2 separate regions of the Homo sapiens genome follow, and region 2 is linked to region 1. Evidence: fine-mapped expression QTL. Tissue or cell type: whole blood. Region 1 holds a variant in brackets; the other region holds the start of a gene. All regions are shown on one strand. Distances are from middle to middle.

Region 1 (8,105 bases):
ACTGACACCCTACAGCTTCTAATAAGTAAAGCAGACAAAAAATCCTCTAAATCAGATCAAAAGCAAAGAAAGACTGAATAAATGAGTGAAAATAATGTAAAAAGGTTTTTGGAAATGGAGACATTTTTGAGGAAGTAGGAAGAATAATTAGTAATTTATTAAATTCATAACTTTCTTTTTAATATAGAAAGTGAAATTTAGTTTTGTTAAAGAAAAAATTATTCAGTGATACCTGCTAAGGCATGAGGCAGTGTTTATTTAGCACCACTGCAGGAGGTACAGGGACCACTGCAGTCGGGTCTTGCAGTGGGGAATAGAGATTGGACTTAACTCTGAATACAGCATGGGCAAGTGAGAATTTGTAGCCAGAGAGTAAGGTGAGGGTCAGTGGATGGAAAATTACTACGAGGAAACATCAGGGGTCAGGGGCATTCTGGCTAAATTTACCTGATAGGATTCTCACTGAAGACAGGCCGGGGTGATCAGACATCACCTGGAGGGTGGTGGAGGATGAGAAACCCGATCAGATCCTGAGAGTGATTAGATATCAAGGGTAGGAGGTTCTTGCTAAACTGCCTTAGCAGGGTTCTTTGCTAAAACTGGATTTTATAAAGAAGTGCACAGATGGTCCTAGGAGAAGGTTCAGGAGCCTGACTGAAGTTTGGTCACACAAAGAATCTTTGTCAGTTTGGAAACTTAAAATTCTTATGTCTTATGGGATTAACAGAAAGATAACTCAATAGCCACTTGAAATTCTTCTGAAATTTAAGGATAACAAGAATATTTTGAGCAAGTGAAGAGAATGACAGACCATATTCACAAAGATATGAGCATTAATAGCATGGAAAATTAACAGCAGGCAAATTAGGATCACCTGAGCTCTACTAGCTCAGTCTGAAATATCCCAGAAGAATTTTATAAATATTACATGTGGTGTTTTGTTTTTGTTTTTGTTTTCATGAAGCTATCAGAGAACAAGTCTGTTTATTTGTGAAAACTTCTCCTTTGTGAAGGCACTGCCTAAGGATGCTATTGGGCTATTGGGGTTGTGTCTTTTTTGGTTTTTTTTTTGGAGACAGGGTCTTGCTCCATCACCCAGGCTGGAGTATAGTGGCAAGATTGTAGCTCACTGCAGCCTTGAACTCCTGGGTTCAAATGATCTTCCCACCTTAGCTTCCTGTTAGTAGCTGGGATTACAGGTGCATGCCATCATGCCTGGCTAATTTTTTTTTTTTTTTTTTTTTTTTTTTTTGGTGGAGACAGGGTCTCACTATGTGTTACCCAGGCTGGATTCGAACTCCTGGCCTCAAGCAGTCTTCCTGCCATGGCCTCCCAAAGTGCTGGGATTACCGCTGTGAGCTGCCATGCCCAGCCTCCTTTTACAAGCTATATTGAAGAGAGAAGTGACTGAGACATCTTAGCTGGAGAGGAGGAATTGAATAAACAAGGGATACAAGTGACAGAGTAAAATGGGCTGTGAAAGGAAATCAGAGAGCTGATGAAACATTGCATTTCAAAGTGTGTCAGGGAAAGATTGAGAAGAAGCAGAACCAGAACATGAATTAATAAGGCAACATTTGTACTTTTCTTGGAGAATATAGCAATTGGTAGCAAAAATTAGAAGTTGGATATCAGATCATTTATTAGTTTGATTAGATTTCTCTACAAATAGTAGAGATCCAAAATAACAAAGATTTCCAAATAATGACTACTATGTAGAAGGCAGACCAGGGCTGCTTTGTCAGCTTTGCAGTCATCTGGCATTTAGGCTGCTTCCAGCTTTTGTCTCCATCATCCCCAGGATCCAAGTTGGAGCGCCAGTCATTTCATCTACATTCTAAGCAGCACAGCAGGGGTGGATGTGTGTAAAACAAATGGCGTTTAGTATTTTTTGAGGATATTTCTTAGAAGCTTCCAGGTAGTACTTCTTGCTTTTCACTGGCCATAACTGGGGTTCCTTTTACTAAGAAAAATCAATTGGATATTGGGATAGGCAGATAGTAGTCTCTGCTACATTATTGAGCACCTACTATGTGCCAGACACTGTGTTAGCTCCTTGAGATAAAAGGTCTTTGCCTTAAAGGAACATATGATCTAATAGAAGACTTAGATTCATATATAATGCAGGGTTAAGAACTATGGTCACCACTGCTTCTTCATTGGTGAATAATTAAAAACAAACAAAAAGAGGCCAGGCACAGTGGCTCACACCTGTAATCCCAGCACTTTGGGAGGCTGGGGTGGGCAGATCACCTGAGGGCAGTAGTTCAAGACCAGCCTGACCAACATGGTGAAACCCCATCTCTACTAAAAATACAAAAATTAGCCAGGGGTGGTGGCCCATGCCTGTAAACCCAGCTACTCGGGAGGCTGAGGCAGGAGAATCACTTGAACCTGGGAGGTGGAGGTTCCAGTGAGCTGAGGTCGTGCCACTGCACTCCAGCCTGGGTGACAGAGCAAAACTCTGAACAACAACAACAACAACAAAGAACTATGGAAAACCAAGGAGAGGTGCCTAACCCAGTCTGAGGTGTTCAGAGAGGTCATCTTGGGCAATGTGTCATGAAACTGAGCCCTAAAGAAGGGTTTCCTCAAGCTTGGTATGACATTTTAGTCAGATAATTATTTGTTGTGGCAGCCATCCAAGATGATCAACAGATAAAGGGAAGCGCATTTAGTTTTGACTTAGGGAATATTGTGCTCCCTGGGTGACCCATGGTTAAGGCGCTGTAGTTCTTCCTTGACTGTCCAGAATGTCTTTCCTTTTCCTTAGCCAATGAGCCACCCAAGAAATGTTACTCCTGGGAGAAGCCTGTGCCTAACTGTGGTTTACAGAATTCAAAGGGAAGAGGTAGTATGGAGGACTCCTTGTGGCTTCACTCCTGGCCCAACCCAGGGCCTCAAAAGGACCTAAGGAACAACTACGCCCTGTTATGCCTGACCTATGGACCCTACCCTCTTGACCATATAATGGAAGTCAGCTAAGCTTAGTCCCACCTGGACCTAGAACATGGTGTTTGTTTCCCATAGGTGAATATATTTTTGAAAAATATATTTTTGAAAAATAAGTAAAACAAAACCAAATCAGGAAATAATCATTGAGAAGTTACAATATGAACACCTTAACAAAGATGAGTAACAATGTGGTGTTTTTTGCTAGAGAGTTCATTTCCAGGCAGGAAGTAGTGTGAAACAAGGTTTGAGAGAAATGATGCGGACCAGGCTTTGGAGGGCCTTATATTTTAAGCTAAAGATATTGAATTTTAAGCCAGTTGCCTTCAGACTTCTCTTATTAGTGGAGCACCCTTTTTTTCAAGTGAAATCTTGTTCGGAACCTTGGTAGATGATGTACTTGGAAGTGAAGTGGCCCTCCTTTAGGCAGCATTTAATTTTGGTTGGATTTAACAAAGAAAACTGAAGTGAAGCTCATGGAATTGCAAAACTACAATTTTGTTTTTAAAAGAAAAACATTGATTGTAATGTGTAAAATTTACAAAACTGATACACTTTTAATTGGGATTATATTGGTTTATAAAAACATTTAGTGTTTTTTTTTTTTTTTTTTGAGACAGAGTCTCGCACTGTCTTCTGGGCTGGAGTGCAATGGCATGATCTCGGCTCACTGCAACCTCTGCCTCACGAGTTCAAGTGACTCTTCTGCCTCAGCTTCCTGAGTAGCTGGGATTGCAGGTGCGTGCCACCACACCCAGCTAATTTTTTTT[T/G]TGTGTGTGTGTTTTTAATAGAGATGGGGTTTCACCATGTTAGCCAGGATGGCCTTGATCTCCTGACCTCATGATCCGCCTGCCTCGGCCTCCCAAAGTGCTGGGATTATAGGCGTGAGCCACCGTGCCTGGCTCAAAACATTTAGTTTTAATAGGCATTTTAGGGTATGTCTTAGTCCATTTGGGCTGCTATAACAAAATACCACAAACTGGGTTCTTACAAACACAGAAGTTGATTTCTCGCAGTTTTGGAGGCTGGGATGTCCAAGATCAGGCACTGATGGATTCAGCATCTAGTAAGGGCCTGCTGTCTGGTTCATAGATGGCACCTTGTGTCCTCACATGGTAAAGGAGGTGAAGAATCTCTCCCTGGCCTCTTTTGTAAGTGCACTAATAAGGACACTTCCCAAGTTCCCATCTCCTAATACAGTCACATTGGTGATTAGGTTTTAACATGAATTTGGGGGGACACAAACATTCAGTCCATAATGAGGTATAAAACTTAGAAGATTCCTGTTTTTTTTAAAAAAATTCTTTTTTTTTTTTAAGATTTAAAATGTAAGCCTAGTTCAGAGTATTTTGCCAAGATGAAGTGTAGGGCAAATTGGATCTTTAAGTAGAGTAACCTATTACATTGATTAACTACTGTCAAAGAAAAGCCAAGCACATCAAGGGAATTATGGTTGGTACCCATCCAGATATTATACATGAATTCATGGTTCCTCCTTGGTCCTTTTCTGAATTACCTGTCTAATGAAGAATTATTTCATTGTTTTTGAAAACATCCTTACATTTCCTCATTGCTGAAAATCATGTTTTCAAACATCAACCATTCATCACAATCACATACAGAACCTTTAAAAGACCTAAAATTTCTGATTCAGGAGGTCTGGGATAGGCCCAAGAACTTGCGCTTCTAACAGGTTTCCCGGTGATGCTAATGTTCCTGGCCTGATTTCACTTTGAGAACCACTGCTTAAAATCATGCTACGTTTTGTTTGCTTCATTTGTGGACTCAGACTTTCTTGCCCCTACAGCCTGGGCTGCAGCCACACTGAAATAATTGTAGCTACAATTATTGCCACACCATTTATTTAATCAGTTCCTTTGAATGTGTTGTTTCCTGTGCCTGCAACACCTTTCTCTCACTTCATTTCTTCATCTGACCAACTCATGGTTGTATTTCAAGATTTAGTTCAGGTTTCCTTTCCCTAAGGAAGATCTCTCCAAGGCCCCCCTCTGTCTGGGATGTACTTCCTATGCTTTCATGAGACACTTGGCAAATGGAAAAGGGTTGATACTTTGAAGCTGGCTAGACTTTGTTTAAAGTCTTTCATTGACACTAACTGGTTTTGTAACATTGCATCAAATACTATCTCTCTCCGTGTCTCCATTTTCTTATCTATAAAACAGGGAAGATGGTGATGATGGTAATGATACCATCCAACATCTACTGAACATTTGTTATGTGCCAGGCAGTATGCTGAGCTCTCTGTGTGCCTTATCTCATTTAGTTTTTATATTTACCCTTTCACACTCACCCATAGGTGCCTTAAACATCTTAATTTTATAGATGAGGGACTTGAGGCTCCCAGAAGTTGAGGAGCTTGTCCTCCGTCCCACAGTTGGAAGATGGTAGAGCCAGGCTGTGGACTCAGGTCTTTGTCTTCATCTATACTTTTAGCTCTTGTTGTATATACTTACAGCATTTATGAAGACAAACTAAAACAGTGTGACAGTGGCTAAGCACACGTTTTAGAGTCAGACAGACATAGGTTCAAATCCTAGCACTGTCCTTTATTGATTATGTGACCTTGAGTGAGTTATTTGGTTTTGTCTAGTCTTGGTTATCTCATCTTTCCTTTAGTTTTCTTATCCTGGAAATGGGAATGATAATATGTTAGATCCCCCTTATCTGCAGATGATATGTTCCAAGACCCCAGTGGATGCCCGAAACCCCACTGATGGTACCGAGCCCTATATATACTATGTTTTTTCCTGTGCATATATACCTGTGGTTAATTTATAAATCAAGCACAGTAAGATTAACAGCAGTAACTAATTATAAAGTAGAACAATTATAACAATATGCCAGTATTACTACTTTTGAGCTTTATGGCCATGATTAAGTTAAACAAGAGTTACTTCAACGTAAGCACTGCGATACTGCTACAGTCCATCTGATAACAGAGGGCTACTAAGTGACTAATGGTGGGTAGTGAGTGTACATTGCATGGACGTGTTGAACAAAGGGATGATTTACATCCCAGTCTAGACAGAGTGAGACAATGTTAGATTTCATCATGCTACTGAGAATGACATGCAATTTAAAACTTATGAGTTGTTTATTTCTGGAGTTTCCCATTTAATGTTTTCAGACCACAGTTGACTGCAGAGAACTACCTGAAACTGTGGATAAAGGCTTACTGAAATAGTATCCATTAAGGATGATAATAATAACTATCCATAGGGTTGTCGTGAGGATTTAGTTAGAATGACTATAAAGCCCTTAGCCAAGTGCCTGGTATATAATGAGAGGTTGAAAATGTTACCTGTTGTCTTTATTATTATAATAATAAGGATGATAATAATACCGATTGCAGATGATGGTAAGTAGTATTTATAGAGTTGTGAGAATTAAATTACTACAAAGCCTTTAGAATAGCACCTGGCACATAGAAATTGTTCAAAGTGGTACTTATTAGTATGTTATTTTTATTGTCGAACGCTTATGCACTGTTCCCCTCCCTCTCCCCATCCCAAAATAATGAGTGTGAAACACCTAGGTTAGTAGCAAGTGCACCACAGGCTTTTGTTAATGTTCTTACACATGCTCCTGTAAGCTTGTTTAGGGCAAAGGTAGTCTTGAAGTCATGAAATGTTTGTCTCAATGAAGCAAAGTAAGCACCCGATTTGAATAGCTCTAGTAGGAAACTAACATGGCAGGTTGGGAATGCTGGCATTACAGTAACAATAATCTCTGAAACTACTTGGAGGTGACCTTTGATATTTCATTGTCATGTTTTCCCTTTTTCCTTTGTTTCTTTGTTTAGTTTGCCTGTTGGTAAACTTTATATAAATGGGATCATGGTCTGTGTTTTTTTCGGTCAGGTTCTTTTTTTTTTTCTCTGGCCTAACATTTTCTTTTGAGATTTACCTGTGTTGTGGTATATAGCTATATCATCAGTTTTAATTGCCAAAATACTATTCTCTGGTATAATATAGATTATTTATACATTTTTACTATTGATGAACATTTGGATTGTTTTTAGTTTGGAGCTAAGGACATTTTTGAAGGTGTTTCCTTCAAGAGTTTCTCTAAGATATACACTTTGGATTAGAATAGCTGGATTATGAGCAGTATGCATATTCCACTTGTTTTTCTTTTTTGTTTTTTGAGATGGAGTCTCGCTCTGTCGCCCAGGCTAGAGTGCAGTGGTGCGATCTCGGCTCACTGCAAGCTCCGCCTCCCGGGTTCACGCCATTCTCCTGCCTCAGCCTCCCAAGTAGCTGGGACTACAGGCGCCTGCCACCACACCCGGCTATTTTTTTGTATTTTTTAGTAGAGACAGGGTTTCACTGTGTTAATCAGGATGGTCTCGATCTCCTGACCTCGTGATCTACCCGCCTCGGCCTCCCAAAGTGCTGGGATTACAGGCTTGAGCCACCGCGCCCAGCCTTTTTTTTTTTTTTTTGAGACGGAGTCTCGCTCTGTCGCCCAGGCTGGAGTGCAGTGGCGCGATCTCTGCCCACTGCAAGCTCACACCATTCTCCTGCCTCAGTCTCCCAAGTAGCAGGGACTGCAGGCGCCCACCACCATGCCCGGCTAATTTTTTGTATTTTTAGTAGAGACGGGGTGTTAGCCAGGATGATCTCGATCTCCTGACCTTGTGATCCGCCCACCTCGGCCTCCCAAAGTGCTGGGATTACAGGCGTGAGCCACCGTGCCCGGCCAGTAGCTTATCTTTTAACTTCCTTTTTAATATCTTTTTTGTCAATGACCTCACTTTAACAGAATTAAGAAAAATAAGAAAAATCTTTTGATGAATTTAAGTTTTAAACTTGTATTTACCAATCTTTTTCTTTAGAATTTTTTGTAAAAAAATTCTTCCATACTCTGAGGTCATAAAAATAGTTTCCCATGTTTTTTCCAAAACTTAAAACAAATTTCTTTTCATGTTAATCTGGAATTTATTAATCAATATGGAATTTATTTTCTTGTGTGAGGTGCAGATTCATTTTCATATTTTTTCTATAAAGATGACCAGTTTCCCGGAACCATCTATGGAAATACAGTCAGTACTTTGGATCCATGGGTTCCACATCCATAGATTCAACTAACCTCAGGTCAAAAACATTCAGGGGGGAAAAATTCCACAGAGT
Region 2 (8,105 bases), 130 kb before region 1:
CGAACACCCAGCTAACTCCCTACTCTAAGTCACACCTGAGCCATTTTATCATGGGGGCTGTCAGAGGCACTGCTGTTTTTCACTGAAGCCCATACCCAATCCCTCGGCCTCGTGTGCTTTTCCCTCACCCACTTCAAAGGCCCGTGGCTTTGGGACGCCTCTCCACCTCATTAGTCATTCCCTCCCCTGCCCATCGCGTCGAAACACAATGCATTGTGGTTATTTATGTCCAGAGCTGGTTCCTCAACTAGGCTGTCAGCTAGCCAGTGCAGAGGGTGTGTGTTAGTCACATTTGTATCATCAGCCCCCGATGGGCCATGGCTACATACTTGTTGAGTGAATAACACAAGGGGCATCTTTAGCATTTCTTTGTGGGGCCCAATCTCCTCAGCGAAGGTACAGGGAATTCTCCACACTAACTAGGCCAGCTGGGTCTGGGTGGCATTTTATGACTTTTTTGTTGTCGTTATTTTGCGATGGAGTCTTGCTCTGTCACCCAGGCTGGAGTGCAGTGGCGTGATCTGCAACCTCCGCCTCCCAGATTCAGACGATGCTCCTGCCTCAGCCTCCTGAGTAGCTACGATTACAGGCACGAGCCATCAAGCTGGTTAATTTCTATTTTTTTGGTAAAGATGAGGTTTCACCATGTTGCCCATGCTGGTCTCAAACTGGGCTCAAGCGATCCACCTGCCTTCATCTTCCAAAGTGCTGGGATTACAGGTGTGGACCACCACACTCAGCAGAGTAAAAAATGTTTAACAGCTTTATTAATATAGGATTAATATGCTGTACAATATGCCATTTAAAGTATACAACTCAGTGTCTTCAGTATATTCACAGGGTTGTGCAACCACCACCACCATCTATAATAATTTTAGACAATTTCTGTTTCCCAAAGAGAAACTCCCTACTTATTAGCAATCACTTCCCATCCTTGCCCCCAACCTAGCCTTCTGTCTGTATCCATAGATTGGCCTCTTCTTGGACATTCTATATAAAGTGAATCATACCATATGTATTCTTTTTTTTTTTTTTCTAGAAGGAGTCTCATTCTGTCACCCAGGCTGGAGTGCAGTGGCGTGATCTCGGCTCACTGCAACCTCCGCCTCCTGGGTTCAAGCAATTTTCCTGCCTCAGTCTCCCGAGTAGCTGGGATTACAGGTGCCCCCCACCACACCCAGCTACTTTTTGTATTTTTAGTAGAGACGGGGTTTCACCATGTTGGCTAGGCTGGTCTCGAACTACTGACCTCATGATCTGCCTGCCTCAGTCTCCTAAAGTGCTGGGATTACAGGCGTGAGCCACCACGCCTGGCGATTTTTGTATTTTCGGTAGAGACAGGGTTTCCCCATGTTAGCCAGGCTGGTCTTGAACTCCTGATCTCAGATGATCCACCCACCTCAGCCACCCAAAGTGCTGGGATTACAGGCGTGAGCCACCTGGCCAGGCAATATATATTATTTTGTGTCTGGCTTCTTTCACTTATTAATAGCATCATGTTTTGGGAGGTTATCCATCTTGCAGCATTTATCTATCAGTCTGTCTATATATATTTTTTGCAACAAGGTCTCTCACTCTGTAGGCTGGAGTGCAGTGGTGTGATCATAGTTCCCTGCAGCCTCTACCTTCTGGCTCAAGCGATTCTCCTACCTCAGCCTCCCCAGTAGCTGGGACTAGAGGTGCTCACCACCACACCTGGCTAACTTTTCGTAGTTAGGGGGTCTAGCTATGTTGCCCAGGCTGCTCTGGAACTCCTTGTCTCAAGAAATCCTCCTGCCTCTGCTCCCCAAAGTGCTGAGATCAAGCCTGGCCTCCTTTTTATTTTTATATTTTTGAGACAGAGTCTTGCCCTGTCTTCCAGGCTGGAGTGCAGTGGCACGATCTTGGCTCACTGCAAGCTCTGCCTTCTGGGTTCACGCCATTCTCCTGCCTCAGCCTCCCTAGTAGCTGGGACTACAGGCGCCCACCACCACGCCCGGCTAATTTTTTTTGTATTTTTAGTAGAGACGGGGTTTCACCCTGTTAGCCAGGATGGTCTCGATCTCCTGACATCGTGATCTGCCCGCCTCGGCCTCCCAAAGTGCTGGGATTACAGGCGTGAGCCACCGTGCCCGGCCAGCCTCCTTTTTAAGTAGTTTTCCATTGCACAAATGTAGCACATTTTATTCATCCACTCATCAGTCTCTAGTTAATGCATCTGTTGTATATGTTCAGATTGGCTGGGGTTCAATACCCACTGGACAACTTCCTAGATGAGTGACTTTTGGTAAATCATAATCTCTCCAAGTCTGCCTCAGTTTCTTCAATTATAAAATGTCAATAATAATGCAATGTACCTCATAGAGAGTCATGGTTGTATTGCCACAGTAATTAATAAAGTGCCAGGAACTTTATAAGGATTATTTAACACCCTTATTATTTACAAAGTAGGCAACAGAGGCTATTGTGGTGGTTCACACCTGTAATCCCAGCACTTTGGGAGTTGGAGGTGGGAGGATCACTTGAGGCGAGGAGTTCAAGACCAGCCTGGGCAACACAGTGAGACCCCCATCTCTACAAAAAAATTAAAAAATTTTGTAGCTGACTCTTTGGACAATAAAGAATTTTATTTTAGAAAATTAGCCAGGTGGCTGGGTGCAGTGGCTCACGCCTGTAATCCCAACACTTTGGGAGGCTGATGAGGGTGGATCACAAGGTCAGGAGTTCAAGACCAGCTTGGCCAAGATGGTGAAACCCCGTCTCTACTAAAAAAATACAAAAATTAGCTGGGCATTATGGCGGGCACCTGTAATCCTAGCTACTGGGGAGGCTGAGGCAGGGAACTGCTTGAATCCAGGAGGCAGAGGTTGCAATGAGCCGAGATCACGACACTGCACTCCAGCCTGGGCAACAGAGTGAGACTGATCTCAAAAAAAAAAAAAAAGAAAAAGAAAAAGAAAAAAAGAAAATTAGCCAGGTGTAGCGGAGCGCACCTGTGGTCCCAGCTACTCTGGCAGGCTGGGGTGGGAGGATTGCTTGAGCCCAGGAGTTCAAGGCTGCAGTGAGCTCTGATTGCACCACTGCATTCCAGCCTGGGCGACAGAGCAAGACCCTGTCTCTTAAAAAATAAATAAATAAACTGCAATGTTTCTGGCAGCCCAGATGCCACCAGCCTCACTACTCTCTGAGAGGTGGGATTTTAACATGCAAAGGCCCACTAACCCGATCACGTCTCACAACTTCAGCTGATTAATACTTTGTTAAAACCTAGACCACGAAAACAGACAGAGCCCGGCGAGGTGGCTCACGCCTGTAATCCCAACACTTTGGGAGGCCGAAGCGGGTGGATCACGAGGTCAGGAGTTCAAGACTAGCCTGGCCAAGATGATGAAACCCCGTCTCTACTAAAAAATACACAAATTAGCTAGGCGTTATGGCGGGCGCCTGTAATCCCAGCTACTCGGGAGGCTGAGGCAGGGAATTGCTTGAACCTGGGAGGCAGAGATTGCAGTGAGCCGAGATCGTGCCACTGCACTCCAGCCTGGGTGACAGAGCGAGACTCTGTCTCAAAAAAGAAAAAAAGAGGCTGGGCACGGTGCCTCACGCCTGTAATCCCAGGACTTTGGGAGGCCGAGGCGGGCGGATCACGAGGTCAGGAGATTGAAACCATCCTGGCTAACACGGTGAAACCCCGTCTCTACTAAAAACACAAAAAATTAGCCGGGCTTGGTGGCAAGCGCCTGTAGTCCCAGCTACTTGGGAGGCTGAGGCAGAAGGAGAATCGCTTGAACCCAGGAGGCGGAGGTTGCAGTAAGCCGAGATCCAGCCTGGGCGACAGAGCGAGACTCCGTCTCAAAAAAAAAAAAAGGTTAAAGAAAAAAAGAAAAGAAAACACAAGATAATCCTGTCCGCAAACGCTTAGCAGTCTTAAATCGGCCTGGTGGAAGGATGCAGGGACACTCCCCCACCCTGCCCCCCGAAAAAGGGGAACGCGCAGCGCGAGGTTCCGGGTCCGCCAAGCTCCCGGCATGCAGCGCGGCGATCCCGGCGAGCACCTTGGCGCGCGGAGCTGGCACCTTGGCGCTGTTGGTGGCGGCGGAGACAGCTGTGAAGTGTGAGGTTCTTTGTCTGCTGGCAGCTAGGGGCGACGAGGCGGGACGTCATGGAAGTGTAAGTCTTCTCGGGCGCGTCCCTTTTCGCCCGAGGAGCCCAACGGTTTGACCGCTGAGAGCTGAGAGCCGAGAGCCGTGGGGACTGGGCGACCCTCGTACGGGAGTGAGGGCAGCGGGCCGGCCCTGTCCGGGAGGGCCGCGGGGTGGTGACGGGGACGAACGGGACTCTCGCTTTGCCCTTCCGAACCTTCGCTTCCCCTCCACGCCGTGTCTGGTGCGGGGCCGAGCACTTCCGTGTCCGGCTGCCTTTCAATGTGCCCCCTCCTTCTCTCATTCGTTTACCAGCGTTTCTGGGTCACAGTGCGGGGGTGGAGCCCAGTCTGGTATCCGACCCCGGACTTAGAAGGCTATAAAGGCCTGAGTCTGTCCGCCCTGAAAGTAGGTGGAGGAGAGACGAATCAGGGCCGGGTAGAGCTCTGCTTGCAGCTGTAGGCCCCTGGAGAGCCCTCGGAAGAGCTGCCCTCGGAATTTGATGGGAGCAGTAAACACTGTGAGGGAAGGGGCTGGTTTTGGGGTGGAGAAGGGAAGGACGTGAACCAGGACTGGGACCAGAGAAACAGCAGGGGGTGTGTGGGTGTGTGTGCAAGGCGAGGGTAAAAGATTTTCTGACAGTTTAACTCCACGTGGTCTTTTCCATGCTTGCTCGTTGCGCCTGGTGCAAATGGAAGATTTTGCATCTACTCTGAATGTGGGCTTTATACGGTTGATATTAATTTGTAGGTATTACTATCTTGTGTTCTCTTTGAACTGATTATTTGATACAGTTTCCTTTATGTTCTTTTGCCTCATGTTTAATGGTTATATGTACTATGGCATTTCACATTTTTACATTTTTAATTAATTGTTTTTTCTTAAGAAACAGGGTCTTGCTCTGTCCCCCAGGCGGGGTGTAATCATGGTTCACTGCAGCCTCACTTTCTGGACTCAAGCAATCCTGCTTCAGCCTCTTCAGTAGCTGGGACTACAGGCCCACGCCATCACTCACCGCTAATTTTTTAAAAAAAGTTTTGTAGATGCAGGGTCTCACTACAGCCCAGGCTGGTCTCCAGCTCCTGAGCTCAAGTGATCCTCCTGCTTTGTACTCCCAAAGTCCTGGGATTGCAGGCGTGAGCCACTTCACCTGGCCTCTTCCGATTTTTTTTTAAACACAATATGTCTGTGTAACTGAAATGAAAGGCTCATGAAACAATAATGTGTGGCGTACACTCTCATATTGTCTATTTTTTATTAATATGAATGGGGCCAACCGTGGTGGCTCACACCAGCAATCCCAGCACTTTGGGAAGCTTAGGCAGAAGGATCACTTGAACCTGGGAGGTGGAGACCAGCCTGGGCAACATAGGGAGACCCTGTCTCTGCAAAAAATTAAGAAGTTAGCTGGGTGTGGTGGTTCATGCCTGTAGTCTCAGCTACTTACGAGGCTGAGATGGGAGGATCACTTGATCCCAGGAGGCTGCAATGAGCTGAGATAGAGCCACTACACTCCTGCCAGAGTGACAGTGTAAGGCTCTGTCTTAAAAAAAAAAAAAAAAAAAAATTGAACCACTGAATTAATTTTGCAACCCACTGATGGGATTTCATCTGCAACCTAAAAAACTATTCATATAATTTACTCTAGTCCAAGCCATCATTACTAATTTTTCCCTCTTTACTAGAGCATTTCCTGTGAGCATACAACCCTGCTTTAGAGAATTCATCTTAGAAAATCCTCCGTCCCCACATACATGTCCCCCTCTTACTCCATTTCTGCTTCCCATCCCAACAAAACTTCTTGAAAGTGCTGATTAGCCCCTCATTCTCTCAGCCATTCTGTTGGGCTTTCATCCTCACTGGTCTACGGGAATGACTGTTAAGATTACCTGAACCAGCGGGGCGTGGTGGCTCATGCCTATAATCGCAGCACTTTAGGAGGCCGAAGTGGGCGAATCCCCTGAGGTCAGGAGTTTGAGACCAGCCTGGCCAACATGGCATAACCTCCTCTCTACTAAAAATACAAAAATTAACTGGGTGTAGTGGTGGGCGCCTGTAATCCCAGTAACTCAGGAGGCTGAGGCAGGAGAATCGCTTGAACTCGGGAGGCAGGGGTTGCAGTGAACCAAATTGTGCCACTGCACTCCAGCCTAGGTGACAGGGCAAGACTGTCTCAAAAAAAAAAAAAAAAAAAACCTGATCCCTCCATCTTGTCAAATTCAGAGGTTGATTTTCTGGCCTCAACTTTCTTGATCTCTCAGCAGTGGTTAATACAGAAACTCTAGAAACTTTCCTTTTCTTGTGATGTATGTTCCTTTGCGTATTTCCTCCTACATCAAGGACTACTTCAGTGTCCTTCCCTGGGTCCCGTTCCTCTCTTGCTTGATGTCTAAGTGTTGAGTGGTATCTTAGGGCTCAGTCCTGGGACCCTTTCTCTCCACACTCTGTCATTTCACCCATCTATGTGCTGATGGTTCTCAAAGGTATGTTTCTAACCTTCTTCTCATCATCTATCCAATTGCATAGACCAAAAATCTAGCCCTCTCTCTTCACTCCCTAAATCCAGTCCATCAGTGGTCCTGTTGTTTCCACCCTAGAATATATTTTGAATGCAGTTACTTTTCACCATCTCCAATGTTAGCTTTGTAGTCCATCACCTCTGGGCTGGATTAAGCAATAGCCTTTGAGTGTTCACTCTTCCCCAGCCTCCATTCTGTTCTCCACATGGCAACTGGAGTGATCTTAAGTAATGATTGGAACATGTCGCTCCTGGGTAAAACCCTTCATTGACTTTCCATTGTACTTAGAGAAAATCTCCATCTCTTACCAGGACCTGCAAGACCCTGTAAAACCTCACCTACTCCCCAGCCTTACCACTTGCCACTCTCCCAACCTCCCAGACACACACTTTCCACTGACAGGTATTTCCTTCTCCTCTAACCTTCTAAGCACTTCCTGAGGACCATTGCGTTGTGGTACCCTCTGTCTGGTATACTTTCCTCCTCGCCCTCGTCCTGTTCTCTTCTTTTTATTGTTCTTTTTTTAGTTCGCTTTTGAGATGGAGTCTTGCTCTGTCACCCAGGCTGTAGTACAGTGGCGCAATGTCAGCTCACTGCAACCTGTGCCTCCAGGGTTCAAGATTCTCCTGCCTCAGCCTACCAAGTAGCTGGGATTACAGGCGTGTGCCACCACGCCCAGCTAATTTATGTATTTTTAGTAGAGACGGGGTTTCCATGTTGGCCAGACTGGTCTTGAATTCCTGACCTCAGGTGATTTGCCTGCCTCAGCCTCCCAAAGTGCTGGGATTACAGGCGTGAGCCACCACACCTGGCCACCTGTTCTTGAAGGTTGTGTCCCTTTTCAAAGTTGCCTTTCGTCTTCAGTAAGTCTAACTAACATAAGTTCTTTTTGTCTTTCATAGTACCTTGATTTACTTTCCCTCAAATAATTACAAGTTGCAATAATAAATGTATGTTTACTTGTTTGGAGGGTGGGGACCAGTGTCTGTTCACCTAGTGCTTAGCATTGCATCTGGCACACAGTAGGCATTCAGCAAATACTTGTTCAATAAAGTAATATAACAATACTTTATTAGCTTCATAAATATAGTCATCTCTCAGCGTCTTTGGGGGATTGGTTCTGGGACCCCCTGCGTATACCAAAATTCACAGATGCTCAAGTCCCTGATATAAAACGGTGTAGTATTTGCATATAATCTATGCACATTCTCCCATATACTTTAAATCATCTCTAGATGACTTATTATGATACCATGACATGTAATACCGGTTTTTGTCCATGGTTCCTGGCTCATAACTACCATAGCCTTTATTACTTCCTAAATGACTAAAACAGTAAGCATAACTTTTGTTAAAGTATTTGTCCTTTGTCCAAGGTTCCTGAAGCGGCCTTGGGACAGCTTCAGAGCAGTAAAGGTGAAAGACAGTCTTTTGTTAGAATGTTGGGGCACTCTAAGCCTCAGAA

Evidence for each region. PIP is the estimated chance that this variant, and not a neighbour inherited with it, causes the effect.
Region 2: it holds the start of CRCP, and the variant in region 1 is fine-mapped to the expression of CRCP in whole blood (INTERVAL, PIP above 0.99).

What each region holds. Positions count from the first base shown.
Region 1 is chr7:66,244,957-66,253,061 of GRCh38, forward strand. All of the region lies in intron 2 of TPST1 (tyrosylprotein sulfotransferase 1), which reads left to right. Among named protein-coding and RNA genes, the nearest start is that of TPST1, 44 kb to the left of the region's middle. The variant T/G (reference allele first, on the strand shown) is at 3,723.
Region 2 is chr7:66,110,822-66,118,926 of GRCh38, forward strand. CRCP (CGRP receptor component) reads left to right here and starts at 4,026. Exons shown (of 6, transcript NM_014478.5): 1 at 4,026-4,149. The coding sequence starts at 4,142. RefSeq lists silencers at 2,902-3,092, 4,521-4,815 and enhancers at 3,739-3,868, 4,406-4,934.